2 separate regions of the Homo sapiens genome follow, and region 2 is linked to region 1. Evidence: fine-mapped expression QTL. Tissue or cell type: whole blood. Region 1 holds a variant in brackets; the other region holds the start of a gene. All regions are shown on one strand. Distances are from middle to middle. Region 1 overlaps ZDHHC20 (zDHHC palmitoyltransferase 20). Region 2 holds the start of ZDHHC20 (zDHHC palmitoyltransferase 20).

The links. PIP is the estimated chance that this variant, and not a neighbour inherited with it, causes the effect.
Region 2: ZDHHC20 starts here. The variant in region 1 is fine-mapped to the expression of ZDHHC20 in whole blood (INTERVAL, PIP above 0.99).

What each region holds. Positions count from the first base shown.
Region 1 is chr13:21,424,257-21,441,628 of GRCh38, reverse strand. ZDHHC20 (zDHHC palmitoyltransferase 20) reads left to right here. Exons shown (of 13, transcript NM_001330059.2): 2 at 15,951-15,977. Among named protein-coding and RNA genes, the nearest start is that of ZDHHC20, 26 kb to the left of the region's middle. The variant C/T (reference allele first, on the strand shown) is at 9,160.
Region 2 is chr13:21,448,055-21,463,466 of GRCh38, reverse strand. ZDHHC20 (zDHHC palmitoyltransferase 20) reads left to right here and starts at 4,164. Exons shown (of 13, transcript NM_001330059.2): 1 at 4,164-4,413. The coding sequence starts at 4,296. It overlaps LOC124903131 (a long non-coding RNA gene), which reads right to left and starts at 3,920. Exons shown (of 2, transcript XR_007063713.1): 1 at 3,288-3,920; 2 at 2,821-3,084. RefSeq lists a cis regulatory region at 3,923, an enhancer at 3,839-4,008 and a silencer at 3,872-4,251.

The DNA of each region.
Region 1 (17,372 bases):
GATCAAGACCATCCTGGCTAACACGGTGAAACCCTGTCTCTACTAAAAATACAAAAAAAAAAAAAAAAAAAAAAAAAAAGCCGGGCGTGGTGGCGGGCGCCTGTAGTCCCAGCTACTTGGGAGGCTGAGTCAAGAGAATGGCGTGAACCCAGGAGGCGGAGCTTGCAGTAAGTGGAGATCGCGCCACTGCACTCCAGCCTGGGCGACAGTGCTAGACTCCGTCTCAAAAAAAAAAAAGAGAGAAAAGAAAATAGAGTGGAAGAGAACTATCCATATCTGGTAACATCAAAAAGAGAAAATACCTTAGAAAAAAAAACAAGAAAAATGTCACATTCACAAGAGGAAAACATTCTTAAAAGACCCAAAATGTGACTTGAACAAATGGAAAGACATTTCATACTTTACGTTCATAGACAGAATAATTCAACATTACAAAGATGCCAGTTCTCCCCCAATTAATGTATAAATGAATTCTAATTCCAGTAAACATTTTTTTGTTTCTGGTGCTAGACAAGTGGATACCAGAGGTCTTATGGAAAAATAAGAAAGAATAAGCAATCAGGAAATCTCTGAAAAATTAAGAGCAATAAGTAGGGGAAATCCCCCAGATTTTAAACCAAAAAGCCTTATAATTAAAACTGTGGGGGCAGGAAGTATATGAGGAACTTTCTACTTTCTGCCCAATTTTGCTGTGAACTTAAAACTACTCTAAAAAATAGTCTCTCTCTCTCTTTTTTTTTTAAACTGTGTGGTCTGGTGCATGGACAGATGTATTGACTAATGGAACAGTATATAATGTCCAGAAATAGACTAATTAAAGAAATTTAGAATATTGTAAAAATAGCACATCAAATTACAGAGGAAAAGATGGGACAATTGGATACATATTTTCTAAGAGTAAAATCAGGTCCATACCTCATGCTATGTTTTAGTATAAAGTACAAATGGATAAAATCTTTCTTTTGTCATATATATATATACACACACACACACACACACTTTTTGTTTGTTTGTTTTTGGACAGAGTTTTGCTGTTGTCACCCAGGCTGGAGTGCAATGGCATGATCTCGGCTCACTGCAACCTCAGCCTCCCGGATTGAAGTGATTCTTGTGCCTCAGCCTCCCAAGTAGCTGGAACTACAGGCGTGTGCCACCATACCTGGCTAATTTTTGTATTTTTAGTAGAGACAGGGTTTCACCATGTTGGCCAAGCTGGTCTCAAACTCCTGACCTCAGGTGATCCACCCGCCTCGGCCTCCCAAAGTGCTGGGATTACAGGTGTTGAGCCACTGCACCTGCCGTATCTTAAATTTTTAACTTTTTATTTTAAAATAATTTGACTTTTGAAAAACAGTACAAACAATAGTCATATAACCTTCACCCACATTTTCTAAGTGTTACTATTTGTCATATGTGCTTTGTCATTCATTCATTCACTCATTCTCTCTCTGAAATGTATGAGAGTAAGTTGTAGAGCTAATGCCCCTTTACCTATGTTTACCTTTATTTCCTAAGAACAAGAACATTGTCTTTTTTTTTTTTTTTTTTTTTTTTTTTTTTCTGAGAAACAGTCTTACTCTGTCGCCCAGGCTGGAGTGCCATGGCGCGATCTTGGCTCACTGAAACCTCTGCCTCCTGGGTTTGAGCAATTCTTGTGCCTCGGCCTGTTGAGTAGCTGGGATTACAGGCGCATGCCACCAAACCTGGCTAATTTTTGTATTTTTAGTAGAGATGGGGTTTCACCATGTTGGCCAGGCTGGTCTTGAACTTGTGACCTCAGGTGATCCACCTGCCTCAGCCTCCCATATTGCTGGTATTACAGGCATGAGCCACCGCGCCTGGGAATTAGAATATTATATAACCAGAGTGCAGTTATTAAAATCAATAAATTAGTATTGATTAAATACTACTCTTTAATCTGTAGGCCTATTCAGACTTCATTTGTCCACTCAGTTCCTTGTTCTGCTCCACAGTTCAGTCTAGGATCACACATTGCAGATGTCATGTCTCTTTAGTGTCCTTATATTTGGAAGAGTTCTTCAGTCTTTATTTCATAATCATGATTTTTTAAGAGTACAGGTTTGTTTTACTTTGTTTTGTTTTGTTTTGAGACAGGGTATCACTCTGTCATCACTCTGTTGCAGTGCAGAGTGCAGGCTGGAGTGCAGTGGTGTGTTCGTGGCTCACTGCAGCCTAGACCTCCTGGGCTCAGGCAATCCTCCTGCCTCAGCCTCTTTAGTAGCTGAGACCACAGGCATATGCCACCATGCCTGGCTAATATTTGAAATTTTTGTAGAAACAGGGTCCCACTATGTTGCCCAAACTGGTCTCAAGTTCCTGGGCTCAAGCGATCCTCTTGCCTCAGCCTCCTTACGTGTTGGGATTACAGGCGTGAGCCACTGCACTCGGCCAAGGTTTATTTTGTAAATGTTCCTCAATTTAGGTTTATTTGATCTTTCCTCATGATTAGATTCAGAGAATTGCAGGCATACCTTGGTGGGAAAATTGCAGGTTTGATTTCATACCACCACAATAAAGCAAATATCAAAATAAAGCAAGTCATACAAGTTTTTGGTTTCCTACTGCATATAAAAGTTACGTTCACCCTATACTGTAGTCTGTTAAGTGTGCAATAGCATTGTGTCTTTAAAAAATACTTTTTGCTAAAAAAATGCTAGCAATTAGCAGTCACCTAAGCCTTCAGCAAGTCTTGATCTTTTTGCTGGTGAAAGGTCTTGCCTCGATGATGATGGCTGCTGACTGATCAGGGAGGTTGTTGCTGAAGGCTGGGGTAGCTGTGGCAATTTCTCAAAACGACAAGAACGAAGTTTGCCGCATCTGTTGACTCTTCCTTTCACAATATTTTTCTGTAGCATGTGATGCTGTTTGACAGCATTTTACTCACAGTAGAACTTCTTTCAGAAATTGGTATCAGTCCTCTCAAACCCTGCTGATACTTTATCAACTAAGTTTATGTAATATTCTAAATGGTTTTTGTCATTTCATCAGTGTTCACAGTATCTTCACCAGGTATAGATGCCATGTCAAAAAAACCATTTTCTTTTCTCTTCCATACAAAGCAACTCCTCGTCTGTTCAAGTTTTATCATGAGGTTGCAGCAATTCCATCACATCTTCAGGCTCTGTTTCTTATTCTACTTCTCTTGCTGTTTTCACCACATCTGCAGTCCCTTCCTCCACTGAAGTCTTGAACTGTTTAGTGTCATCCATGATCTTGGACTGGAATCAGCTTCTTCTGTAGTCCTGTTAATGTTGATATTTTGACCTCCTCCCATGAAAAACGAGTGTTCTTAATGGCATCTAGAAATGATGAATCCTTTCCAGAAGGTGATCAATGTAGTTTGCCTAGATCCATCAGAGGAATCACTGTGGCATCGATAGCCTTATGAAATGTATTTCTTAAATAAATAATAAGGCTTGAAAGTTGAAATGACTCCTTGATCCATGGGCTGCAGAATAGATGTGTTAGCAGGCATAAAAACAACATGAATCTCCTTGTACATCTCCATCAGAGTCCTTGGGTTTCAAAGTGCATTTTCAATGAGCAGTAATATTTTGAAAGGAATCTTTTTTCTGAGCAGTAGGTCTCAACAGTGGGCTTAAAATATTCAATAAAGCCGCTGGGTGCGGTGGCTCACGCCTGTAATCCCAGAATTTTGGGAGGCCGAGGCGGGCAGATCACGAGGTCAGGAGATCGAGACCATCCTGGCTAACATGGTGAAACCCCATCTCTACTAAAAATACAAAAAATTAGCCAGGCGTGGTGGCGGGCGCCTGTAGTCCTACCTACTTAGGAGGCTGAGGCAGGAGAATGGCGTGAACCCGGGAGGTGGAGGTGGCAGTGAGCTGAGATTGTGCCACTGCACTCCAGCCTGGGCGACAGTGTGAGACTCCATCTCAAAAAAAAAAAAAATTCAGTAAAGCATACTGTAAACAGATGTGCTGTCACCCAGGTTTTGTTGTTCCATTTCTAGAGCATAGGCAGAGTGGATTTAGCATAATTCTTCAGAGCCCTAGGGTTTTTGGAACGGTAAATGAGCATTGGCTTCAACTTAAAGTCCCCAGCTACATTGGCTCCTGAGAAGAGTCTCCCTATTCTTTGAAGCTGGACATTGACTTCCTCTCTCTGGCTAGGAAAGTTCTAGGTGACCTCTTCTTCCAATAAAAGACTGTTTCATCTGCAGCGAGCATCTGTTATTTAGTGTAGCCACTGATATGGCGTGGCTCTGTGTCCCCACCCAAATTTCACAGTGTGAAAATGGACTAATATAGCTACCTTCATCAATTATCTCAGCTAGATCTTCTGAATAACTTGCTGCAGCTTTTACATAAAAACTTGCTGCTTCGTCCTGTACTTTTGTGTTATGGAGATGGCTTATTTCCTTAAACCTCATAAATCAACTTCTGCTAGCTTAAGACTTTTTTCCTGCAGCTTTCTCATCTCTCTCAGCCTTCACAAAATTAAAGAGAGTTAGGACTTTGCTCTGAGTTAGGCTTTGGCTTAAGGGAATGTTTGTGGCTGGTTTGGCTCTCTGTCTAGAAAACTCAAACTTTTTTTGTATCAGCCTCATTGCACTTTCTTATTCATCTATTCACTGGAGTAGTACTTTTTTTAAAATTAATTTTTTTTATTATACTTTAAGTTCTAGGGTACACGTACACAACGTGGGCCAAAGTTAGTGCCACTCCACTGGAGTAGTACTTTTAATTTTCTTCAAGAACTTTTCCTTGGCATTCACAACTTGGCTAACTTTGGCCCAAGAGGCCTAGCGTTTATCCTGTCTTGGTTTTTAACATGTCTTTCTCACTAAGCTTAGTCATTTCTAGCTGTTGATCTAAAGTGACAGGTGTGTGACTCTTCCTTTCACCTGAACACTTAGAGGCCATTGTAGGATTATTAATTGGCTTGATTGCAGTATTGTTGTGTCTCCGGAAATAGGGAGGCCCAAGGAGACGGAGAGAGATAGAGGAATGTCTGGTCAGTGGAGTGGTAGAAACACCACATTTATTAAGTTTTCCATCGTATATGGATGCAGTTGGTGGTACTCCAAAACAATTACAATAGTAACGTCACAGATCACTGATCACAGAGCACCAGAGCAGATATTATGATAATGAAAAAGGTTGAAATACTGTGAGAATTAACCAAAATGTGACACGGAGACACAAAGTGAGCACAAAGTGTTGGAAAAATAGCACAGATAGACTTGCTTAATGCAGGGTTGCCACAACCTTCGATTTGTAAAAAACATAATGTCTGCAAAGCACAATAAATCAAAGCACCTTATGAGATGTGCCTATATGTATTTTCAGCAAGAATGTCACAGAAGTAATGCTGTGTCATTATAACATTTTGGGGACCATTAATGTTGATCAACACCCAAGGTAGTGTGTGCTATGTTTCTCCATTCTATAAAGGTACAGTTTTTCTTTGTAATTAATATTCTATTAGACCACCACATCACACGGATTCCTTTTTGAGGAAGGACTTGTTGCTCAGTTTTGGTCAGTGCAGTCAGCAGATAGCTTCCAGCACTTTCTGCATGACTCATATCACCCAAGGTCACACCCTTCCTGGTGCAGCTTGCACACAATGCCTGAGTGAGATGGGGTGGAACTGCCCACTTCAGAGCTCCCTGCCGGTTGCTGAAGCCAGGACTATATTGCAGTGAGATTGCTCCCTTAGCCCAATTATACCTCTTCCCCCTTCCTTTCACATATGCTGGTCCCTAGTAAATACATTGCACCCCAAACTCTGTCTTAGCATCTGATTCCAGAGAACCCAACCTGAGTCATTTCTTATTGGGAGACATTTTGAAACCCTGTGAATAATCTGTTTGTTATTACTTTCACTTACTCCTTTTAGCATCTATTGAGAATTCTTGCTTGAAACAGTTATTACTGTCCTGGTTGCCAAATGGTGGTTTTCTAATTCCATGATTTCTTCTACATTTACTAGTTAGAATTCTACTGTATGGAAGAGATTATCCTTCTCCCATTTACTTATTTATTGATTCACTCACATATATCAGCATGCACCGGCAAATTCTATTTTGTGAATTATAATCTAACACGTATTTTATTGTTCAATTTGTCCCAGATTTGGCCAGTAGGAGCCAGTTTCCATCTTGTTTCTGTGTGCTTTGATGTGTCCTTATTGTTTTTTTAGTACTTCCTTTCTTTCTGGCAATATATTTCAGCATTGTTTGATACTTTTCCTGCCCCTGGAATTGGTCATTTCAACAGGGACCAAGAATGAATATAAAAAATGGAAACATTCAAGCATTAGAAGAAAATATGGGTGGATGATCTTAAGGCAATGAGGAAAGCCTCTAACATCTCAGAATCACCAAGCACAATAGAAAAAACAAACAAACAAAAAAGTAAGCAGATGTTTCACAGGAAAAAAAAAATGAAAATGACACATAAGCATAAGAAAAGATACTGACCCTCACTTATAAGATAAATACGAGGTAAAATTATCCTGCCATACCAAAAGATTGAAAACTTCATTGAGTAGACTGCAGAGAAACAGTCAGTTTCATTCATTGCTGGTAGAAGTATAAAATGGTACAACCCGTATAAAAGGGTTTTTGCAAAAAGCTAAAGACATGGTGGACAGATTTACTTTTGGTTCAGTAATCCCACTGTTAGGAATCTACACTGAAGATAAACTTCCACAAATAAACAACACATGCACAAGGTTATTTATTGCAACATTGTAGTGGCAAAGGATTGGCGACAACACAGATGCCCATCAATAGAAGGCTGATTGTATAACTGGAATATCCACACAACGGAATATTGTGCAATGCTTTAAAAAAAAAAAAAGGATGTCTCTGTGTGCTAATGGGTAGCGATTTCTAGAATTTGTAGGACATTTCACAAGACATCTGGCCTGATCTTTTCAAAAAGTCATCATCATATGGATTTAGGGAAGATGGTGGTAATAGTACATTATTTTTGAGTCACTCCAAATCACTGCATAAAAACAGAACATGAACAGTATCTGTAGCAAAACTAGTTTGCTAGAGAATGACAATGAGCTTCAGACAACCAAATTGACTGCAGAGATACAAATTAAACTCTAATATGAACATTAAATATTTATTTTCTTGTGGACCCAAGACTAAGACTAAATGAGGAATAATGTTTGTAATGGATACTATATGCTTTAACAATTTTGATTCAGCACAACTACTAGAGAATGGAGAGAGAATATATGAAAAAATTATTCAAACTTTTAAGTAATCATATTACTGGCAGTGTTATTGTCATTATCTCGAGATTATTGGGTAAGCAATATGGGGTATTCTAATTCTTCATCCCTTGTGTCCTTGAGAACCAGAATTCTCAATGGAAAAAGGAGATACAAATGTGAGATAGAAGATGTTAAGTAAAAACCCTGTAGACTTTAATTTTAATTGGAAATATCGGTATCAACTTATCAGGTATTTAATCTTCCTTTTAAAATGGTGTGCACGCACACACACAGACACACAGACACACACACACACACACGTAGGAAAGGAAAACAAACCCTGTTGATTACCAGACTAGTCATTTATGTAGAAAATCCCAAAGAAACTGCAAACAAGCTACTAGAACCGAAAAGTGAATTGAGCCAGCATACAAGGTCAATAAAAAAACTAAAACATATTTCTAAATACTATTCTATAGCAATGAGTAATTAAAATTGGAATTTTTAGAAATGCTGTTTATAATAGCATCAAAAACATGAAATATTTTAGGGATAAGTCTAATAAAATATGTGCAAGATTCTGTGTGATAGAGAAAATCTAAAATGGAGAGCTACGCCATGGTCATGGGCTGTAAGACAATATTTCAAAGACATTACTTCTCCCCAAGTTGATCTGTAAGTTCAGCCAGTCAAAATCCAGGCATCAGCCAGCACTGGATCTCCCAGAACAAACAAACAAAAAACAAAACCAGGCAGATTTTTGTTTGTGAATTCCCGCCTCCCACCCCCACCAGATGGAGTCTTGCTCTGTCACCCAGGCTGGAGTGCAGTGGAGTGATCTCGGCTCACTGCAAGCTCCGCCTTCTGGGTTCACGCCATTCTCCTACCTCACCCTCCTGAGTAGCTGGGACTACAGGCACCCGCCACCACGCCCGGCTAATTTTTTGTATTTTTAGTAGAGATGGAGTTTTACTGTGTTAGCCAGGATGGTCTCGATCTCCTGACCTCATGATCCGCCCGCCTCAGCCTCCCAAAGTGCTGGGATTACAGGCATGAGCCACCATGCCTGGCCTTGTTTGAGTATTTTTTTAAGGAAATCAATAAGATGAGTTTAAAATTTACATGGGCCAGACACAATGGCATGCAAGCTGTCTAGCTACTCAGGAGGCCTATAGTCCTAGCTACTTGGGAGGCTGAGACAGACAGACTGCTTGAGCCCAGGAGTTTGAGACAAGCCTGGGCAATACAGCAAAATCCTGTCTCTAAAAAAGGTAAAAATAAGTAAGTATTTATATGGAAATGCAAACCTAAAATAGCCAAAATACTTTTGAAAAATAATAAGTTGGAGGACCCATACTATCTGATTTCAAGATTTACTGAAAGCTATATGTAATCAAGACTGTAGTATCTGAGTAAGAATGGACATATAGACCAGTGGAACAAAATAGAGTTCAGAAATAAACCCTTACACGTATAGTCAGTTGATTCCCATAAGAAAATTCCAGGTTAATTTAATGAAGAACAAATAGTTATTTCAACTAACACTGTAAGAACTATTCACCATTCATATGTAAAAAAATTAACCTCAACCTTTACCTGTACCATATACAAAGTATCAACTTTTTAAAATGGATTACATGGGGGGGCATGGTGGGTCACACCTGTAATCCCAGCACTTTGGGAGGCCATGGTAGGCGGATCAGTTGAGGTCAGGAGTTCAAGACAAGCCTGGCCAACATGGTGAAACCCTATCTTTATTAAAAATACAAAAAAGTTGTCCAGGAGAGATGTCTCATGCCTGTAATCCCAGCACTTTGGGAGGCCGAGGCAGGTGGATCACGAGGTCAGGAGATCCAGACCACCTTGGCTAACATGGTGAAACCCCATCTCTACTAAAAAACACAAAAAAAATTAGTCAGGCATGGTGGTGGGCGCCTG[C/T]AGTCCCAGCTACTCAGGAGGCTGAGGCAGGAGAATGGTGTGAACCCAGGAGGCAGAGCTTGTAGTGAGCCGAGATCACGCCACTGCACACCAGCCTGGGCTACAGAGCGAGACTCTGTCTCAAAAAAAAAAAAAAAATTAGTGGGACACTGTGGTGCATGCCTTTAGTCCCAGCTACTTGGGAGGCTGAGGCAGGAAAATGGCTTGAACCAGGAAGCGGAGGTTTTAGTGAGCTGAAATCGCACCACTGCACTCCAGCCTGGGCGACAGAGCGAGATTCTGTCTGAAAAATAATAAAATAAAATATGAAATAAAATGAGAGCAAGACTCTGTCTCAAAAATAATAAAAAATATGAAATGATATAAAATGAAAATGAAATATATTACAGACCTAAATATAAAACCTATAAAACTTCCAGAAGAAAACATATGAGAAACTGTGACTTTCATAGGTTGGCAAAGATTTCCCAGGCATGAATGATAAAAGAAAAAAATTGATAAATTAAATTAAGACTTCATCAAAATTAAGAGTTTGTGCTCTTCAAAAGACACTGTTAAAAATATAAAGAGGCAAGTTATGGCCTAGGAGAAAATATTGGCACACACATATCAAGATTTGTATCCAGAATATATGAAGAACTCATGACTCAATAAGCAATACAGTTAAAAGAGGGGCACCATTGAACATATAACTTCACAAATAAGGGATAGTGATTGTTAAACACATGAAAAGATGCTGTAGTTATTAGAAAAACACAAAAGTGAAATGAAGATACCACTGCATATTTTTTAGAACAGCTAAATTTTAAAAACTGTCAATTCTAAGTATTGGTGAGGATGTGGAGCAACTATAACTCTGATCCATTGTAAGTGGAAGTGCCAAACACTTTGTGCCAAATACAGCCACTTTGAAAACAGTTTGGCTGTTACTGGTAAAGTTAAGCACATATTTAACATTAGACCCAGCAATCCCATTTTTAGATATTAAGTAATGAAAATTGATATTGTTTGGCTGTGTCCCCATCCATATCTCATCTTCAGTTGTACTCCTGTAATTTCCCCTGTGTTGTGGGAGGGACCCAGTGGGATATAATTTGAATCATGGGGGTGGTTTCCCCCATACTGTTCTCGTGGTAGTGAATGAGTCTCAAGAGAGATCTGATGGTTTTATCAGGGGTTTCTGCTTTTGCATCCTCATTTTCTCTTGCCTCCACTGTGTAAAAAGTGCCTTTTTGCCTCCAGCCATAATTCTGAGGCCTCCCCAGCCATGTGGAACTGTGAGTCCAATTAAACCTCTTTTTCTTCCTAGTCTTGGGTATGTCTTTATCACCAGCGTGAAAATGGACTAATACAAAAATATTATGTCCACCCAAAGGCTTGGTGAATACACGAGTAATCATAATAGACAAAAAGGTGAAATCACTCAAATGCCTATGAACTGATTAATGGATAAAGTTGTCATACCTCCATATAACAGAATGCTATTCGGCAGTAAAAGGACAAGCAGGGACTTCCAGTTCTGAGACAAGATGAAATAGAGACTTCTTCCTTTTCTTAGTAAGTACAGCTAAAATCCATGGAAAGTGTGCAGAAAACAAACCTGAGGAGACTCTGAAAGGTATCAAGAAGAAGCCAGATCAGCTAGGGACCTTGCGACCTGAGGAATAACATGGTGGTGTGTTCCCTAGATTTTTTTTTTCTTCATATATGTGCTAGAGAAGCTGTCAACCTGGAAACACCAATGAATACAGACCAAAACAAACCCTAGAAAAGACCAGTTTTATTAGTCAAGCCAGGAAAGGGACAACCTAGTAAGACAGAAAACTTGTAGACAATAACTGCCCTACTCTAGCCAAAAACAATAGACAAACTGTGCTCCATCCCCCACTCTCACCAGCAAAGACTGAGTATTGAGCTTAAGACCTCTCCTGCTTGCCCAGCTGTAACAAGACCCCCCTCCTGTGTCTCTTCCCCAGTATTCCTGCTGGGATAGTATCAGAAAAGGTGAAGCCCTAGTCAGGAGCCTAGATTTTCATTCCCACTGGGCAGTAATGATGTGTCCCTTCCATCCCCCCACCCCAAACAGTAACAAGTTCCCTCTCATGGTGTCAATGGAGGCTATCTGGGAAGCACTAAGGAGGCACCTCTACCCTTCCCAGCCAAGATATGTGTGCAGAAGCCTAGCAGGGAGCTGGGACTTGGACTCCCACCTGATGGCAACAAGGTGGTGCTCCCACATCTCTCACTGCACGGAGTCAGACGAGGCCTGCAAAAACAAATTTAAATAAGATCTAGAGTCTCAGCATAATACTAAAACATTTCAGGATACAATTGAAAACCATCCATCCTACCAAGAACCAGGAAAACTAAATGAGAAAAGAGAATAGATACTAAAACCAAAAAGACACAGATGTTGGAATTACTTGACAAGGACTTTAATGCAGCTATCTTTAAAGTGATTCAATTTGCTATTGAATTATGAAAAAATAGAATTCTCAACAAAGAAATAGAAGATGTAAAGAACCAGATGGAGATTTTTAAACTGAAAATACAATAGCCAAAATTTTAAAAAGTCAACTGAACAGCAGAATGGAGAGGGCAGAGAAAAAAAGTGAAGTGAATGAACTTGAAGATAAAACATTAGAAATTACCCAATCTGAACAAAAGAGAGAAAATATACTGAAAAATAAAAATGAACAAATCATCAGGGACTTGTGGGACTATTTTTAAAAGTTCTAATATTTGTACCATCAGAGTCCCAGGGGAGAAGAAAGACGATATGGTTGAAAAGGTATTCAAAGAAATGATAGCTTAAAATTTTCAAACTTGGCGAAGGACATATTCAAGAAGAACTTAAGAAGTTCAGCAAACTCTGAACAGGAAAATCCCAAAGAAATCCACTCCAACATACATTATAACCAAATTTCTGACCACTAAATATAAAATCTTGAAAACAGTGAGGACACTTTACCTATAGGGGAAAAACAGAATAACAGCAGATTTGTCATCAGAAACCGTGGAATTTAGAAGGAAGTAGTACATATTTAAAGTACTGAATGAAAAGAACTGTCAACCCAGAATTCTATATCCAGCATATAACTGGCCCATCAAGGTTGAAAGTTGACAGTTGTACATTCAGATAGCACATCCTCACATTATAAGAATTCAAAGCAAAAACAGGATAAAGGAAATAATAGAGCTTCTTTCTCACGTGCTTCTCACTTGTTAAGGAGGGCAAAAAAATTTTTTCCCAGTGACAGTTTTTCCCTCCCTCAAGATGTATCCATTTGCAAGAACTGGATCCCATAGCCATAGTAGATACAAGTATACTGATAAAGTGAGTATCTGATATTTTCAGGCTCAATAAGTGGGAGACAGGCAAGAAAAGGGGGCAATGAAGTGAAGAATAGGACATAGCCAGCCCTCATGTTCACAAAGAACCATAAATTAATGTTGTCTCTAAATGAGGTTAGTGTCATTGACAAGATTGAAAAATGACATTTCTTACATAAAAAAATGTATAAACATTTAGTGTGCCTAATAATTTTTGTTGTTGTTGGGTTTTTTTGTTGTTGTTTTGTTCTTTTGTTTTGTTTTATTTTGTTTTGTTTTTGAGGCAGAGTGTCACTCTTTCACCCAGGCTGGAGTGCAGTGGTGTGATCTTGCCTCACTGCAACCGCCTCCCAGGTTCAGGCGATTCTCCTGCCTCATCCTCCTGAGTAGCTGGGACTACAGGCGCACGCCACCATGCCCAGCTAATTTTTTGTATTTTTAGTAGAGATGGGGTTTCACCATCTTGGCCAGGCTGGTCTTGAACTCCTGACCTCGTGATCCACCTGCCTCAGCCTCCCAAAGTGCTGAGATTACGGGCATGAGCCACCACGCCCAGTCCTAATAGTTTTTATAAGCTTGGTTTTGTCATCAAAAGAATTTTTAAAAAACATAGTTTGGGCCTGGGTGCGGTGGCTCACGCCTGTAATCCCAGCACTTCAGGAGTCCAAGGCAGGTGGATCACGAGGTCAGGAGATCAAGACCATTCTGGCCAACATGGTGAAACCCCGTCTCTACTAAAAATACAAAAATTAGCCAGGCATGGTGGCGTGCACCTGTAATCCCAGCTACTCGGGAGGTTGAGGCAGGAGAATTGCTTGAACCTGGAGGGTGGAGGTTGCAGTGAGCCAAGATCACGCCACTTTACTCCAGCCTGGGTGACAGAACAAAACTCTGTCTCAAAAACAAAACAAAACAAAAAAGAAAAATATATTTTGGGATCCCCATAAAAAGGAATAGCCTCGTCTCACTGAGAGAGGTTCTGCAGATTGCTGTTCCCAGCCATGTCTTTGTCTCTGTAGTTAGAGGTGCCATTAGCAAATATTAAGAGTGTGTTCCATGCCGTACACTGTTTCAGATGCTGGTGAAAAAGTCATGTCCTCTACCTCCAGGAAAAAAACCTAGGAGGAACTATGAACTGTAAACCAGTAATTACAAGTGTCAGGGGTGTTATGAAAGGGAAAGTATAAAGTGTTGTAGGAATATATACCGAGATTTATTTAACCCATTCTGTGGTCAGGAAAGTCCTCTGTGAAGAAGTGATTCTAGCCATTGTTGGTTTGGTTTTTTTTTTTTTTTTTTTTTGAAACAGAGTCTAGTTCTGTTGTCCAGGCTGGAGTGCAGTGGTGCAGTCTTGGCTCACTGCAACCTCTGCCCCCTGGGTTCAAGTGATTCTCCTGCCTCAGCCTCCCGAGTATGTGGGACTATAGGTGCATGCCACCATGCCTGGCTAATTTTTGCATTTTTTAGTGCAGACGGGGTTTCACCATGTTGGTCAGGCTGGTCTCGAATTCCTGACCTCAAGTGATCCACCCATCTCAGCCTCCCAAAGTGCTGAGATTACAGGCGTGAGCCACCGTGCCCGGCCTAGCTTTGTTTTTATATGAAGCAGTTTTATTGTTCCCTGAATATCTTGGTGAGAAGCTGAAAGAGACAACCGCTGGAAACTATTAGCTAGATGTTATTTTAAATTCAGATTTTCTACTTGGAGGAGGGTGATAACACAGTATATTATCAAGTTTTCATCCTTACCAGTAGTCTGAACAGACTTTTAGTTCAAATCCCATCTATACTACATATACTAGCTCTGTGACCTTAGGAAGGTCATTTAATTATTTTGAGCCTTAGTTTACTTATCTGTAAAATGGAGCTAATGATAACTTGCAGGGTTGTTACTATTCTAAGACATGATTCCACACTTCAAGGAGCATTTATTCCAGTAAGGTGAGACAGACATATTGACAAGTAATTGAAAAAATAAAAAGAAAAAAAGAAAAATGAGATGGTGTGGTAAAGATGGAAGAGTGATCAGTGGTGATATAAAGGAGTGATCTACTCTGGCTAAAGAGGGACTCAGGAAGACTTTACAGAGGAGTATTCAAAACGGGCCTTGAAGGGTGAATAGACAAGGTACATGGCACATATGAAACAGCTTGATGCATTTGGGAAACCACAATTTGTTTAGAATAATTACACCAGAAATATGGGCAAATGACAGAAGAAACTAGAGAGGGCCTGGCGCGGTGGCTCATGCCTGTAATTCCAACACTTTGGGAGGCTGAGGTGGGCGGATTCACTTGAAGTCAGGAGTTCGAGACCAGCCTGGCCAACATGGTGAAAACCCATCTCTACTAAAAATAACAAAAATTAGCCAGGCGTGGTGGCACTCACCTGTAATCCCAGCTACTCGGGAAGCTGAGGCAGGAGAATCACTTGAACCTGGGAGGTGGAGGTTGCAGTGAGCCAAGATTGTGCCACTGCACTCCAGGCTGGGCAACAGAGCTAGACCCTGTCTCAAAAAAAAAAAAAAAAGAAAAGGAGAAAAAAAGGAAGAAACCAGAGAGGTAGACAGATTGTAGATTACAGAGGGCTTGTAGTGTTTGCTACCCTGAAGATTTTGGACTTCATTCTGAAAGTGACTCACAGGTATTGAAGAGTATTCATCAGATTTGCTAGTGGTGGTGGTGTGTTACACTGACTGCAGGAAGATGCCTTAAGCTGTTGCATTTGAGGAAGACAGTGGGGAGGGACTGAAGAATAGGTGACATATTATAAAGAGACTTAGATAGTAGAACCAACAGGACTCGAGGCCATTGAATTATCCAGGAAGAAAGAGTAAATAGCAGTTCACAGGGTTTCAGGCTTGGTAGACTGAAGTGGTTGTTGGCTTTATTCATCACAATAGTAATACAAGGTGGAAGAAAACATAAGAGAGGTAGACACTGAATTACCTTTTCTGTGCGTAGTCTGACTTCTTCAGTATTTGATTATTCAGAGGAAAAAAACACTAAAAATTAGCAGGGTAAGTTCCTCTACTTTTTTCTTTAGAAAAATACATTTGTCTTGAGTATAGATTCACAAAGAGGTTGATAAGAGTACATCACAGACTAACAAATAAGTTATGGGGGTCATAGAGGACAGTTCTGTTCATTCTGCAGATATCATTAAGGAAAGAGCTAAAGAAAACATTGCAGCTATAAACATGTTGATACACTTAAAATTAATAAAGTTCTGAAAACATTTAGTGTGACTGTAGCGTTAATGATAAAGAATTTGGATTTTAGTATTTTAATGGTTTTGGAGTTTTTTAAGTGCAATTTTGACTTTGCATTAGTGTCTACAATTTATAACTAAAGTTTATTTTTTTGAAAATGATATTAAGATGAATATTCAACCTGAAATAAAACTTACATACAAAATGTTTAAAGTATATTTATTCACTATTTTTTCTTCTATTCTAGTTACTATTTTTGGAAATGAAGAAAATGGTAAGGCACTTTTAGTTTCAATTTAAGTTAAATGCTTAATGATATTTTAATTGGAACATACTTTTTATTTAGTGATGAATGCATGTGTTTTTGTTTTTTAGAAATAAAATCCCTATCTTTACATTTTAAGTAATTAAAAGGAGATCTAGTAATGGGGTTATTTCCAGACCAAGACATTTCATGTATTCTCATTTTGTGTTATTTATGTAAATTAAAGTAGACATTATTTTGTACAACACCTAGTACTCAAACTTCTTTGTGTATTTATATAAATATTTGTCTCATATGTTCTTCAAAACTTTTTATTTAGATTTTTTTAATATGAGTTCTAGCTAGGTTGAGGAGACAATTCTGCTTTCATGATGTCTAAATTTTATTGATGGTTCTCGTTTAGGCATTTGTTAAAATCGCAATTTACAATGCACAGATATTTAAGAAAATAACCAGACTGTAAATTTGTAAATTGCATTACCAGTTTAAGGAAGCTAAAGTTTTTATAACAACTAAGTAAAAAAGATAGTGCCCAGAGGGAAAAATCATCTCTCAAAATTTCACTGGGATAAAAGCAAATTTCATAAGTCTGTTGAGATTAAATTTAAACAAAATTTAATTGGGCATACAAAACTCCAGAGGATTTCTAAAATACTTGAACAGTTAGAAATTATTAATAAATAGTAATTCCTCTTACTGGAGACAATTAGGCATTAAGTATGTAAATATTAAATTACCTTTAAATTTAATTTGTCAGTAACAGAATAAACGCAGACTCAATCTTGGTTGGCTTATTTTCTTTCTTTAAATCAAAAATGTTTCCTGTATGTTGGAAGCACAGATACAGAAAGCAAAGAATTTCAGAAGTTCTTATAAAAGAACTTTTAACTTAAATCATTATCTCTTGGGGCTATTTTTACCGTGTCTCTCAGAGTCTTTTTTTTTTTTTTGAGACAGAGTCTCGCTCTGTTGCCCAGGCTGGAGTGCAGTGGCGCAATCTAGGCTCACTGCAAGCTCCGCCTCCCAGGTTCACGCCATTCTCCTGCCTCAGCCTCCTGAGTAGCTGGGACTACAGGCACCTGCCACCACGCCTGGCTAATTTTTTGTATTTTTTTAGTAGAGACGGGGTTTTACTGTGTTAGTCAGGATGGTCTCGATCTCCTGACCTCGTGATTCGCCTGCCTCTGCCTTCCAAGGTGCTGGGATTATAGGCGTGAGCCACGTTGCCTGGCCAAAGAGTCTTTCAATACAGTCTTTTGTTGTTGTTAGCTTGTTTGTTTTTAAATTCAGTTACGGGTGATTTTTGAACTTCTGAACACAGAGTTTGGTATATAGGTTTCAGGTTTTTCTTTCAACTTTGATTTAATTTTCTCAGTTAACTATGATTTTACTTCCTATATTACT
Region 2 (15,412 bases), 23 kb before region 1:
TTTTGGAGAGAGTCTTGCTCTGTTGCCCAGGTTGGAGTGCAATGGCGTGATCCCAGCTCACTGCAACTTCCACCTCCCAGGCTCAAGCAATTCTCCTGCCTCAGCCTACGGAGCAGCTGGGATTACAGGCGCCCCGCCACCATGCCCAGCTAATTTTTTTTTTTTTTTTTTGTATTTTTAGTAGAGATGGGGTTTTACCATGTTGGACAGGCTGGTCTCAAATTCCTGACCTGGTGATCTGCCCACTGTGGCCTCCCAAAGTGCTGGGCCCACAGGCGTGAGCCATCGCACCCAGCCCTAAGTAGCTTTCTTATTACCTTCTCCACTGCCACAAATCAAGGTCAGGCTAGCATCATCTCTTGCTCTACGACTGCAACGGCCTCCCAACTGGTTTCCTTGCCTCTAGACTTTCCTCCCTCCAATCTGTTCTTCTTACCACAGCCAGAGTGATTGTTATAAAATGTAATTCTGCTCACGTCACTACACTGCCTAAAGTCTTTAAATGATTCCCTGTTGTCAAAACCAGTAGCAAAGATGGAGTGAAATCACAAGCCCAACATGGAAATGGAAGGAAGGGGTTTAAGATACTGGCTTCTATTGCTCACAAGCAAAGAACATTAATTCATGTCTGTAACCATTTACGACAGAAAGAGTCCAAAATAATAAAAATATTGCCTCCTCAAAAATGTGTCTGTCCTCATTGTACAAGGACATAGATCAGAAATATTCTCTAGATCCCACATAAATCACCTTAGAATATGTGGCAGTCATTTAGAAATCAGAAACTGGTCGGGCACGGTGGCTCACAAAAAATACAAAAAATTAGCTGGGCGTGGTTGTGTGTGCCTGTAATCCCAGCTACTGGGGAGGCTGAGGCAGGAGAATCGCTTGAACCAGGGAGTCGGAGGTTGCAGGGAGCTGAGATTGCACCACTGCACTCCAGCCTGGCAACACAGCAAGACTCTGTCTCAAAAAAAAAAAAAAGAAAAAGAAAAAAAAGAAATCACAAGCTAATGTAATCTGGTTGGCAACGCCAGAAGTTAGGAGGAGTAACTGGATAACAATAGAAAACTTTAAATATTTGTTCAACAATTTCTTACTAAATATTTCCTACTGCAAGTCACTGTGGATGTGCAAGAAATACTTTCTACCTTCTAGAACCTTACAAGGTAGTAGGCAAGATCACATATTTCAATGAGTATCAAAACTATTGGCTGAGCGAGGTGGCTTAGGCCTGTAATCCCAGCACTTTGGAAGGCCGAGGCAGGCAAATCACTTGACTCCAAAAGTTTGAGACCAGCCTGGCCAACATGGGGAAACCCCATCTCTAGCAAAAATACAAAATGCAGGCCTCACGTGGTGGTGCACGCCTGTAATCCCAGCTACTCGGGAGGCTGAGGCATGAGAATCACTTGAAGCTGGGAGGTGGAGGTTGCAGTGAGCCAAGATCACGTGACCGCACTCCAACCTGGGTGACAGAGCAAGACTCTACTGAAAAAAAAAAAAAAAAGAATGTGGCCTTATTTGGAAGTGGGCCTGTTGTAGATGTAATTAGTTAAGATGAGGCCATACTAGAGTAGGGTAGGCCCTTAACCCAATATAAGGGGAGAGACAGGAAAGGAGAATGCCACCTGAGGATAGCGGTAGATATTGGGGTGATGCCACTGCCACTGCAGGTCAAGGGATGCCATGGACTAATGGTCACCACCAAAGGCTAGGAAGAAGCAAAGAAGAATTCTCCCCTACAAGTTTCAGAGGGCACATGGCTGTGTTAGGTCATTCTTGCACTGATATAAAGGAATACCTGAGACTGGGTAATTTATAAAGAAAAGTGGATTAATTGGCCCACAGCTCTCCAGGCTGTACAGAAAGTATGGGGTCAGCATATGCTTCTGGTGAGGCCTCAAGAAGCTTCCAATCATCAGTTGGAGACAACATTGGAGACAACAGCAACAGGAAGGTCCCTCTCACCTTCCTCTCGCTCTTCTCCCCTGAAGCAGGCCATAGCACTAGCAAAAGCGTCTCAGGCCTTCCCCTGAAGGCAGACCTAAGACTGTTATTCAAGAGGTGCCCTCCCTCTACCCAGACAAAGGAACATCCTTATCTCTGAAGACACAGGACCACAGAGATAGACTTCTGCCTTCTCGGCAGAAGGCAAAGGGGAGCCAGCATGTCACATGGCAAGAGAGGGGGCAAGAGAGAGAGTGGGGGAAGGATCAGGCTCTTTTAAATAACCAGATCTCATGTGAACTACTAGAGAAAGAACCCCTCATCCAAGGGGATGGCACTAAACCATTCATGAGGGATCCACCCTAATGATCCAATACCTCCCACCAGGTCCCACCTCCAACACTGGGATCACATTTCAACATGGGATTTGGAGGGGACAAACATCCAAACCATATCCAATATCCTTGCCAACACTTTGATTTGGGACACCTACCCTCCTAAACTGTGAGACAACCAATTTCTATTATTCCCCAGTTTTGTGGTACTTTGTTATAGTCACCCTAGGAAACGAATGTGACAGTTTTATAGTTAGGTTATAAACAAAATGTCGTGAAAGATCATTTCTAGCAGCCCTGGAGCTTGTAAAGGACATGGCTTTGTGCTGAGCTCTAGCAGCATGGTTTTGGTACGTAGAGATGACATAGAGGAGAAACGGCTTTATGTTCTTCCATGTCCATCCGAATTCTATGTTGAGGTCTAACCCTCCTAAGCAGCCTCTCTGGAAAACTAGTTGAACTTGAACCTAAACCTACTGTCAACTAGGCCACTAACTAATATGACTTTTAAGGCACAAAATCAGGGAGAACAGAATCTTTTATACATGCTTTATTACTCAAGCAGCAGTGTGCAGTGATTAAATACTTACTCGCTTTTACTACATTTCTCTGACACAGCAAAGGGTGACGTCTTCTTCATGGAGACTTTAGTGAGCAGTAGCTAATTTAAAGCTCAGTGTAGGCCGGTCGTGGTGGCTCACACCTGTAATCTCAGCACTTCTTTGGGAGGTGGAGGCGGAGAGGGGTTGGGATTCCTTGAGCCTTGGAGTTCAGGGCCAGCATGGCAACAGGGCGAAACCTAGTTTTTACAGAAAATACAAACATCAGCTGGGCATGGTGGCGGGCCTGTAGTCCCTGCTACTCTGCAGGCTGAAGCAGGAGGAGTGCTTTAGCAGGGAGGTCGAGGCTTAAATGAGCCCAGGTCGTGCCACTGCACTCCAGCTTGGGCGACAGAGCGAGAAGACCCTGTTTCAAAAAACAAACACAAAAATTCATTCTAACCAAAACTGAATGCTAGTAGCAGGAACTGGTATGAAGATTGCGGTCTGGAATCCCTTCTAATGCGTCTGACCTTGCATTGTGAAGTCTTCACAGTGATGCTTCTGGGTTCTATATGATTATCGTCATTGCTTAGCAACCTCTAGTTGTAAATAAATTCTTTAAATTTCCTTAGTCGTTTGCGGGGCAAGGAGAGGGTCATTTACATGCCCTTTCCTTCTCGCTACTCAATCTTAAATTTGGGTTACGAATCAAACTGATGGACCCTACATGGCTTCTACCCGAAATTACAGGTATCTACCGTTCCATCTTCAAGAAAGGGAGGGGTTCCGCCAAGATGGACGAACATAAAAATCACAGGAGGAGCCTTCTAACAATGTGCATTCTTCGCACACTGAGTGGGGAATGGCCTTGTCATGTTTGAAACAGTGCCCCAACTACTCAATGTCCCAGGAACCCCAGTGGAGCGAGTTCTGTACACAGAGAGGGCCAAGATCCACAAATCAGCTAAGGAATCATTTCCATAGTCTCCCTCCCCTATTGAGTCTCGATCCACAAAAGCTATCCCCTGTCCCTCTCATCCATCAAGGGCGTGTTTTTCGCCTCTCCTTCCCCGGCCTCCCGCGTCCGCCCAGCCTGTCCGCATCCAGCCCCGCCACGCCCCATGGGCGGTCCCGAGCTGCGGCCCCGCCCCCTCACCGCCTCCCCGGCCGCGGAAACCCCGCCCCAACGACGCGGAGACCGGGGGCGGCCCGCGGCCCGCGGCGGGCGGGCTGGCGGGGACGGACGCGGGGGGAGGGGGGCGACGGGATGTGGGGTGGGGGCGGGGCCTGGCTGGGCGCCGGGACGGGAGGAGTCCCGGCGGCGCCTCGGACTTTTGCTCCCACAAGTCCTGCCTCGGAGGCGGGGGAGCTGGACCAGCAGCCGCCTGGAGCGTCCGAGTCACCGTCGCCGGGGCTCCCGCGCTCCCCAGAACGGTGGGACGCGGGGCTCGGCAGCCGCCAGCGGAACATGGCGCCCTGGACGCTGTGGCGCTGCTGCCAGCGCGTCGTGGGCTGGGTGCCGGTGCTCTTCATCACCTTCGTGGTCGTCTGGTCCTACTACGCGTACGTGGTGGAGCTCTGCGTGTGTGAGTACCGTCCCCGGGGACTGCGGCGGGGCGCGGGCCGCGGCTAGGGCGCGAGATAGGCCTCTGCGCCCCACACCCGCCGCCTTTCTGGAGCCAGCGCCGGACGCCGGGCGTCCGGCCCCGAACGCGCTCGGAAGCGCCGAGGTTGCTGCACCCGCCGCTTTGTTCAATCCTGCGGCGCGGCCTTGGGGCGACCTGGGGCTCCTGAAGCCTTGCGGCGGCTTCCCGGGTGCAGGTCTGGCCCAGGGAGGCCCCAAGAGCTTCCTGGTTCCCGCCGACACCGGGGGTCTGCATCCTTCTGGGAAGGAACGTGCAGAACGGGAGTAGTCGAGCTTCTTAGAAGGTTTAGGTTGTGTTTGTGGCTTTTTTGGCTTTTGTTCATTTTTTTTAAAAAACCAAATCTGTTCCTTCTGGATTGTTTTTGTTCAAACTGCGCGAGAAGAAACGCCTGTTACCTGTAGAGCCGGCTGTGGCGGGTTGGGGGAAGGGAGGTGTGTCTTTTGGTGGCCTCGGGCTGGAGGCGGGTCAGACCTGGAGGACGAGTAAGCTCCCACTTTTGATTTTTGGTGGTACTCGACTCATTGTAAAATTCGTTTATTTCTACTCTGAATCCAGCCGGCTTTTGCAGAAGGTTAAGACAGAAAGAATGGGTGGGAGGAGACATAACCTGATTATTTTTTTCTTGGCTGATTATTAAGGAGGCTTATATTTCTTATACTCATATTTTGGCGTGTTAATTTTCGTTACTTCCATTTTCCTGATAAGTTCTTAGCACAAAATTCTCATCTGATTCCCTGGAAAAAAGGAGTAGCATTGCAGTATACTTCAAGGATTTAACCTACTGGCTTGAATTGGTTGCCTTTAAGATTGAAGGAAATTGGTTGTCATTAATCAAAAACACTGTTTAGGGGTGACTGCTACATTTGTGATATTGGGCAATTTCTCCAACATTGTTTTGTCTTAAGTAAATTGTTCTTAGGCTTTGAGTATGTGGGTATTTTACACTTAAACTGGCCTCAACTAGGGTGTTCTGTATACATCTGCTGCCTATATCAATTTTTTATGAAAACCTAGGACCAAATGGTAAGTGGTGTTTGTAAACGTTATTGTTATTCCAGAATGTTCTACTCTTAGTCCTTAGACTGAATCTACCATTTTATGAAGGACTGTTAAGTGTTCTTTGAATAACGAACCACATCAGCTAGAAACTAATGTTATGAATGAGAAGAATCTGTACCACCCACTCTTGAAAGTGGCAGAATCAAGACTTCAATTATGTTTGGATTTGTACAGCTTTCAACCAAGTATTTGGTTAAAACCCTAGTTCTATACATGGAAGAGAATGCTTTGGCTCAGAAAATTTATAAGTTTTGAAATTAAAACATCCAGTTTTAAAATTACTTTGTACCTATAGAACGTTTAATTTTGGGACGACTATCCCTGCAGGTAGGCCCAGAATAAATTAGTTGTGGAATACATTTCCAAATAATATTAATCTTTTCAATATCATTGTTTAGTCTCATGCTTTTGGATACCAGAATGTTTACTAAAAATGATGTTTGAGTCAATTAAAATTACTAGATTTTAATATTTCTGGGAGCTACTTCCAGAAAGTGGTAGTGATCATAGGATTCTCATCAACTTATGATGATACCTCCTTTATCTTCTTATTTACTCTGAAGTGGGCATTTATTCTAAAAGTTATGTCATTCCTATTCTGTCAGAAGATTATTCCTACCGTATTTTAATTCCCGTAGTGGTTTTGAAGTAAAGCTGAAGGAACACTAAAAATGTGCATTTATGTTGAGATTCCACAGCTTAACCTGTAGATGGTTTTTGTCAAAAATATTAAGAAATGAGATCAAACAGTGCTGTGAAAAGTCTTAAATTGCTTCTGATTTCTTTCACCACTTCAAATAAAGAAGGAGAAATGAACATGAATTGAGAAGTGCCATGTGCTAGTGGGCATAGAGGGGACATTTCATTCACCCTCTCCTTTAATTCTTTCAGTATGTCACAGCATAGGTATCTCTACAGGTGGAGGACGTGAGACTGAGCGAATAGGTCCTTTTGGTTAGGTCACACAATTGATTATTGGAATGTGACCCACATCTTTCCGTTCTTTCATATAACTTCAGTAAGCTATGAGGGTCAATGGAACTGTAATTGTTTGGTCCATAATGGTGTGGGGGGATAAAGGGGTTGGCATATTTTTGGAGATCACTTAGTTAGGCTTGAGGCCCATTCTGTAGAGATTATACCCTACAATTTCATTAAGTTAAAACATTCTATAACTATGGCCTGATGCTTGGCAGAATCTTAAAATATTTGGTGGTGAAAGGTCTTATGTAGAGGCTGTATTAACTTCTGAGTTATCTCATTTTAACTAGAGAGAATTTGGGAGGTCTGCAGTGTCACTGGAGTATAAAATAGTTGAGCATAAAAGTGCATTTACTCATATTAAAACTATCCTTTAAACTACTTGTATGTATTTGTTTTCATAAGTACTGACCCTCCCACTGAAATATGTATAGATATATTACTTTATAGGAGGACTTAAATGGAGGGAAGTGTGAGTTTTACTTAAAAGTGCTGTTTTAATACTTTTATAGGATATTCTTTTTATTTATATATGTATTTTTTGAGCCAGAGTTTCACTCTTGTTGCCCAGGCTGGAGTGCAATGATGCGATCTTGGCTCACTGCAACCTCTGCCTCCTGGGTTCAAGTGACTCTCCTGCCTCAGCCTCCCAAGTAGCTGGGATTACAGGTGCCCGCCACCATGCCCAGCTAATTTTTTTTGTATTTTTAGTAGAGACGGGGGTTTCACCTTGTTGGTCAGGCTGGTCTCAAACTCCTGACCTCAGGCAATCCACCCACCTTGGCCTCCCAAAGTGCTGGGATTACAGGCATGAGGCATTGTGCCCGGCCTATAGGATATTCTTAGATTCTGGTATTCTTTATCAAACTAGGAGGAGAAGATCATAATTATATCTTTACATGTATGTATTAATTCATTTAATCTTAATAATGATCCCCATAAGGTTAAGTAATTTGTCCACGGTTATAGAGCCAGTAAGTAGCATGGTAAGAATTGGAATTCAAGGGGTTTGGCTCCAAAGCCCATGCTGTTAACCACTATACAATTAATGACTAATCTATTTGGTGTCCAGATCTGGACACTCAGGGCAGATTTCAGTCCTGTATATGATATATTTATATAAAGTACTTTTCTCCTAAAAGGCAGCTGCAGAAGATTCCTAAATATCTCAGACAATAAAAATACCTGGCCCACAGTTGGCTGTAAGTTGAACAAATTGTTGATTACCAAGAGGCCCTCATTCCATCTTACCCTCTGTAACTTGCTAATTGTGTAATTAGACACACACACACACACACACACACACACACACACACACACCACTTCACTGGGAGTAATACTGAGGACAAAATTGAGGAAGAGGGTAATGCATGTAAAACGGCCATCTCACAGGAGTGATAAGCTGAGAAGCGAAGATTAAGTAATTAGTAATATTGGTCCTTGATTTTAAATTAGACTGAAATTCTCGTATGATTTTTTTTCCCCAGGGTTGATATTTAAAGTACGAATGGATTGAATAACTTCTTCTCTTTGGTCAAGGTGGTTATTTTTGAGGCAAGTGCTAATTCTGGTTCCCAAGGTTTTATCAGAATATCTTGTTGTTCAGGTCATCTTGTTAGTGGATGTGTACCTCTTCTTTGGCATGTAGAGAATCTTAGAACTTAAAGAGATTTTAAAGATAATCTCATTCAGTCCCTTTACTTCTGATGAAACTATTGCTCAAAAGAGCTATGTTGGCCAGGCGTGGTGGCTCACACCTGTAATCCCAGCGCTTTGGGAGGCCAAGGCAGGCGGATCACGAGGTCAGGAGATCGAAACCATCCTGGCTAACACGGTGAAACCCCATCTCTCTAAAAATACAAAAAATTAGCCGAGTGTGGTGGCGGGTGCCTGTAGTCCCAGCTACTCGGGAGGCTGAGGCAGGAGAATGGCATGAACCTGGGAGGCGGAGCTTGCAGTGAGCAGAGATTGCACCCCTGCACTCCAGCCTGGGCGACAGAGCGAGACTCTGTCTCAAAAACGAACCAACAAACCAACAAACAAACAAACAAAAGAGCTATGTTGTTTGTTCAAGGACAGGTATACCTTTTATATTTTTTTCAGACAAATTTGTGGAGTGGACTCTAACCTTTGAGTCTGTATTAAATATTTACTTGTGTCTCCTGCATAACTTCTTCAAATTTAGAGGCAGATTAAGATAAATAACTTAAGCACTATCATTGTACATGCTAGCTTGACACTGTTGATTCTGAAGTATTTTATTGATATTGAAAGAACCAGTTTTCTATTTCATTGATTTTTCTCTTTTCTGTTTTGTTGTTTTCCTGTCTGATCTTTACTATTTCCTTTCTTTTACTTTGGGTTTAATATGCTCTTTTTCTAGATTAATGTGGAAACCAAGGTCATTGATTTGAGCCCTTTCTTAGGTAGGTAGTCCTATAAATTTACCTCCAAATACTGCTTTAGTTTTATTCTATCAATTTTGATATGTTGTGTTGTGGTTGTCATTCAATTCAAATTATTTTCTTGGGCTGGGCACAGTGGCTCACCTCTGTACTACCAGCACTTTGGGAGGCTTGATGAAACCTCATCTTTTTGTTTGTTTGTTTTTGTTTTTGTTTTTGTTTTGAGATGGAGTCTCATTTTGTTGCCCAAGCTTCAGTGCAATGTGGCGATCTTGGCTCACTGCAACCTCCTCCTCCTGGGTTCAAGCAATTCTCCTGCCTCAGCCTCTTGAGTAGCTGGGATTATAGGCATGTGCCACCACGCCCGGCTAATTTTTGTATTTTTAGTAGAGATGGGGTTTTGCCATGTTGGCCAGGGTGGTCTTCAACTCCTGACCTCAAGCGATCCACCCACCTCGGCCTCCCAAAGTGCTGGGATTACGGGTGTGAGCCACCATGCCTGCCAAAACTCCATCTCTACAAAAAATACAAAAAATTAGATGGGCATGGTGGCTTGTGTCTGAAGTCCAGCCTACTCAGGAGGCTGAGACGGGAGAATACCATGAGCCCAGGAGTTCAAGGCTGCGTTGAGCCATGATTGTGCCATTGCACTCCAGCCTGGGTTACAGAGCAAGACCCTTTCCCAAAGAACAAACAAATCCTTTTATTTTGTTTTGTTTTAAGACAGTTTTGCTCTGTTGCCCAGGCTGGAGTGCAATGGCGCAATCTCGGCTCACTGCAGCTTCCACCCTTCAAAATTCAAATTATTTTCTAATTTCACTTTTGGTTTGATCTTTGACCCCATGGATTTAGTTTCCATTTATTTGGGGGTTTTCCAGATATCTTTCTGTTATTGATTTCAAATTTCCTTGTGGTCAGAGAACATACTTTGTATGACTTAAATCCTTTAAAATGTATTCAGGCTTGTTTTATAGCCCAGAATGTGGTCTGTCTGAGCTGTGTTCCATGTGTGCTTACGAAAAATATGTCTGTACTCAGCAATGTATTGTGCTGTTTGTTGCTGGGTGGAGTATTCTGTTATGTCATAATGCTCCATAAATGTCAGTTAAGGCAAGTTGGTAGTGTTATTCAAGTCCTCTATTTTCTTGCTTTCCTGTTTGTTCTCTCAGTTATTAAGAGAGGTATAACTATAATTGTGATTTATTTCTCCTTGTAGTTCTATCAGTTTTTGCCTCGTATTTTACATCTGTGTAATTAGGTGCATAAAACATTTAGGATTGCAATATCCTATTGACCAGTTGGCTCACTTAACATTATGAAGTGACTTTATTACCCCTGGTGATATTGTTTACTCTGAAATCTGCTTTGGCAGATATTAACATGGGCACTAATCTTTCTTTTAATTATTGTGAGCATGATGTATCTTTCTCTGTCCTTTTAATGTGTATGTGTCTTATATTTAAATTGTAATTCTCGTAAAGAGCATATATTTGGGTCTTTTAAAATCCAACCTGAAAATCTCTGCCTTTTAATAGGGGGTTTTGACCATCTACATTTAATGTGATTATTGATATAGGCTTAAGTCTATCATTTGCTCTTTTGTTTTATTGTCTGTCCTCTTCTTTGTTCCATTTTCTCCTTCTTTGACCTTCTTTTGAATTAATTGATCTTTACAATTTTTTTAATTTTGATTTTTAAAAATGATTCTATCTCCTTATTGGCATATTACTAGTAATTCTTTTTGTTACTTTATTGATTGCTTTAGGGCTTATAACATGTGTCTTTGAGTTATCACAGTCTACCTTCAAGTTACGTACTGTTTCATATATAATACCTTATAAAAGTATACTTCTATCTCTTCCATCTTGGCCTTTATGCTATTATGGTGCATTTTATATGTTGTAAACCTCACACTGTATTGCTACTATGTTTAAACAGTTGATTATATTAATAGTTTTTAAAGATTTAGGTTTAAAAAACCCAAAATATATGTATTTATTCCTATAGTTACCATTTCTAGTTCTCTTCATTCCTTTTTGTAAATCCATCTAGTGTCATTTCCTTCTGCCTGAAGGGCCTCTTTTAACGTTTATTGTAGTGCAAGTCAGCTGGACTGAATCATTTCAGTTTTTGTATGTTTGTAAAAGTTTTAATTTTGCCTTTAGTTTTTAAAGACAACTTGATCGAGACATAGTTTGCATGTCATAAAATTCACTAATTTAAGATGTACAATGCAGTTATTTTTAGTAAATTTGCCAAGTTTTGCAGTCATCACAACAATCCGTTTTTTGAAAATTTCTGTCGCACATTAAGATCCCTCATGCCCATTTACAGTTAATCCTTCTTCCCACCCCCAGCCCAAGGCAACCACTAATCCATGTTGTCTCCAAATGCCTTTTCTGAACATCCCATATAACTGGAATAATACATGCTTGCAACACATATACTAAAATTGGAAGAGTACAGAGAAGATTAGCATAAAAACCAAGAAAAATTTAAAAAGGGAAAAAAATAAATGGAATCATACAATAAGTGTTTTTTTGTTTTTTTTTTGGAGATGGAACTTCACTCTTGTTGCCCAGGGTGGAGTGCAATAGTGTGATCTCGGCTCATTGCAACCTCCGCCTCCTGAGTTCAAACGATTCTCCTGCCTCAGCCTCTCAAGTAGTTGGGACTACAGGTGTGTGCCGCCATGCCCTGCTAATTTTTTTTTGTATTTTTAGTAGAGACAGGGTTTCACCATGTTGGCCAGGCTAGTCTTGAACTCCTGACCTCAGGTGATCCACCTGCCTCAGCCTCCCAAAGTGCTGGGGTTTCAGGTTTGAGCCACCGTGCCCGGCCAATAAGTGGTCTTTTTTGTCAGGTGTATTTTGCATAGCATAATGTTTTTGAGGTTCATCTGTGTATTATGTATCAGTATTTCTCCCCTACTCTTCACTTCACATCCTAATTTGTATTTTTCTGTTTTCAAAACATATTCACAGTTTTATTTAGGAATATATTTCTAGTAAGCCTCCTCACATCATTTGTACATTGAATTAGAATATAAATTAAAAGTATGCACTTTCTTATATTTATTTATGTACCTGAATAATCCTGCTTACAAGACTTATAGTATAATTGGGTCCTGTTTGTTCTTGTATCCATTAGAGCCTAGTGCTAGTAGACTTTAAATTAATATAACTTGAATTGAATTGAATCATACTCTTGTAAACTCACTTGAATCGTGTTTGAATGTTAGGACACACAAACATCTAGAATAATAATACTAATTATAGTTACAAAACATGTATTTCACAATCTTTAGTGGTAAAGGCTACGTGAAATGGCTTATTGGTCCTACATACAGTCTTTGTTTTGGGTTATGAAACAGTGATTCTTTGAAATTATGCCGACATGGTTTAAAAAACCTATTTCCCTAAATCTTATCCTCAGTGGTTGGCATACTTATAGGAAAAGTTAAATGTGAATTAGAATTAAAAACAAAAAACTTTTGGCCAGGCATGGTGATTCATGCCTATAATTTCAGTACTTTGGGAAGCCCAAGTGGGAGGATTGCTTGAAGCCAGGAATTCAAGGGCAGTTTGGGCAACATAGCAATACCCTTTACAAAAATAAAATAAAAAATTAGCCAGGCATGGTGGTACCCACCTGTAGTCCCAGCTACTTGGGAGGCTGAAGCAGGAGGATTACTTGAGCCCAGGATTTCGAGGCTGCAGTGAGCTATGATCACACCACTGCACTCCAGCCTGAGTTACAGAGTGAGACCCTGTCTCCAAAAAAAAAAAAAACCACCTTTTTATTAATTTTATCATTTCGCATCTATTTTCAGATGCGAGAGTGTAGTAATTTTCTAGATAACTTGCCTTTGAAAGATACAGTGGCCAGAAGACCTGTTTATTTGAATTCTGCAGTTACCTTAGCCTTCTCTTTTACTTTTTGTTATTTTTGAAGAAAAAGTTTTTTTTCTCATGACTACTAGTGAGTTAATCTGTCCTGGTATTATTTTCTGTGTTACCAGATAGCATACTGGTCTGAGAGAGCTCTGTAAATATATATATTTAAAAACCCACCTAAAATCAAATGAAAAAAAAGATCTGTTTTATTTCCCCACATAAACTCAACCTTCTCTGGGGCTTCCCTGCTTTCTTGAAAGACAAGAAATGTGGAAGAGAAAGATGCTGGACAACCTAGAAACCAAGTCAGACTGTTCAGAAGAACCTTATGCCCTAGTCATGCAAGTAAAAGCCTGGCTGCTTCTCTGCCCGCTCCCTTTCCGGCAGAGAAGTAGTAGTATGCTGAATTCCGGACTCTAATCTGTTTACTTGACATCTCTGCTTGGAGATCTAATAGGCATTGTAGACAAAACTCTTGATTTTCTTTTTTTTTCTCCCTTGAACCTGCTGCTCCTAATAGCTCAGTAAATGACAGCTGTATCCTTCTACTTCTTGGGTTGAAAAGTCATTCTCCATCTGGATAATCAGCTTGTTCTGTCATTAAATGTCTAAAATCCAGCTGCTTCTCACCACTACTACTGCAACTGTTACACTCCTTTAAACCACCATGATCACTGCTTAGTGTAATAGATTGAAAAACATGACTATAATAATTTGCACCATCTGGGTGCAGTGGCTCACGCCTGTAATCCCAGCATTTTGGGAGGCCGAGGTGGGCAGATCACCTGAGGTCAGGAGTTCGAGACCAGCTTCATCAACGTGGCAAAACCCCATCTCTACTAAAAATACAAAAATTAGCACACACCTGTAATCCCAGGTACTCAGGAGGCTGAGGCAGGAGAATCGCTTGAACCCTGGAGGCAGAGGTTGCAGTGAGCTGAGATCATGTCACTGCTCTCCAGCCTGGGCCACAGAGTGAGACTCTGTCTCCAAAAAAAAAAAAAAGTATAATAATAATAATAATTTGTACCTTCTTCCATCAAGAAATAGTCTGTTTACCGCCCATTGAATCTGGGCTGGCCTTGTACTTGCTTTGGCCAGTAGAATGTGGTAGATATGTGAGTTCTGGAACTTAGGCCTCAAGACATCTTCTGCCTTAGCTCTTTTGGGACATTCCCGTCATCATGTAAGGAGTCCAGACTAGACTGCTGAGTGAGAGACCACATGGAGAAGAGGCCCAGCCAAGAGAAGCCAGAACCCCTAATGTGTGAACAAGGCGATTTTAGACTCCCACCCCATTCGAGCTGCCTGATGACTGCTATTAGTAGAGAAACATTCCAGCTGATCATAGCCCAAACTGCTGGCCCACACAATTGCAGGAAATAATGAACAGTGGTTGTTTATTTTTATTTATTTATTTTTTTTAATTTATTTTTTTATTGATAATTCTTGGGTGTTTCTCACAGAGGGGGATTTGGCAGGGTCATGGGACAATAGTGGAGGGAAGGTCAGCAGATAAACAAGTGAACAAAGGTCTCTGGTTTTCCTAGGCAGAGGACCCTGCGGCCTTCCGCAGTGTTTGTGTCCCTGATTACTTGAGATCAGGGATTGGTGATGACTCTTAACAAGCATGCTGCCTTCAAGCATCTGTTTAACAAAGCACATCTTGCACCGCCCTTAATCCATTTAACCCTGAGTGGACACAGCACATGTTTCAGAGAGCACAGGGTTGGGGGTAAGGTCACAGATCAACAGGATCCCAAGGCAGAAGAATTTTTCTTAGTGCAGAACAAAATGAAAAGTCTCCCATGTCTACTTCTTTCTACACAGACACGGCAACCATCCGATTTCTCAATCTTTTCCCCACCTTTCCCGCCTTTCTATTCCACAAAGCCACCATTGTCATCCTGGCCCGTTCTCAATGAGCTGTTGGGCACACCTCCCAGACGGGGTGGTGGCCGGGCAAAGGGGCTCCTCACTTCCCAGTAGGGGCAGCCGGGCAGAGGCGCCCCTCACCTCCCGGACGGGGCGGCCGGCCGGGCAGGGGGCTGACCCCCCCACCTCCCTCCCGGACGGGGCGGCTGGCCGGGCAGAGGGGCTCCTCACTTCCCAGTAGGGGCGGCCGGGCAGAGGTGCCCCTCACCTCCCGGACGGGGCGGCTGGCCGGGCGGCGGGGCTGACCCCCCCCACCTCCTTCCCGGACGGGGCGGCTGGCCGGGCGGGGGGCTGACCCCCCCACCTCCCTCCCGGACGGGGCGGCTGGCCGGGCGGGGGGCTGACCCCCCACCTCCCTCCCGGACGGGGCGGCTGGCCGGGCGGGGGGCTGACCCCCCCACCTCCCTCCCGGACGGGGCGGCTGGCCGGGCAGAGGGGCTCCTCACTTCCCAGTAGGGGCGGCCGGGCAGAGGCGCCCCTCACCTCCCGGATGGGGCAGCTGGCCGGGCGGGGGGCTGACCCCCCCCACCTCCCTCCCGGACGGGGTGGCTGCCGGGCAGAGACGCTCCTCACCTCCCAGATGGGGTGGCTGCCGGGCGGAGAGGCTCCTCACCTCCCAGACGGGGCGGCTGCCGGGCGGAGGGGCTCCTCACTTTTCAGACG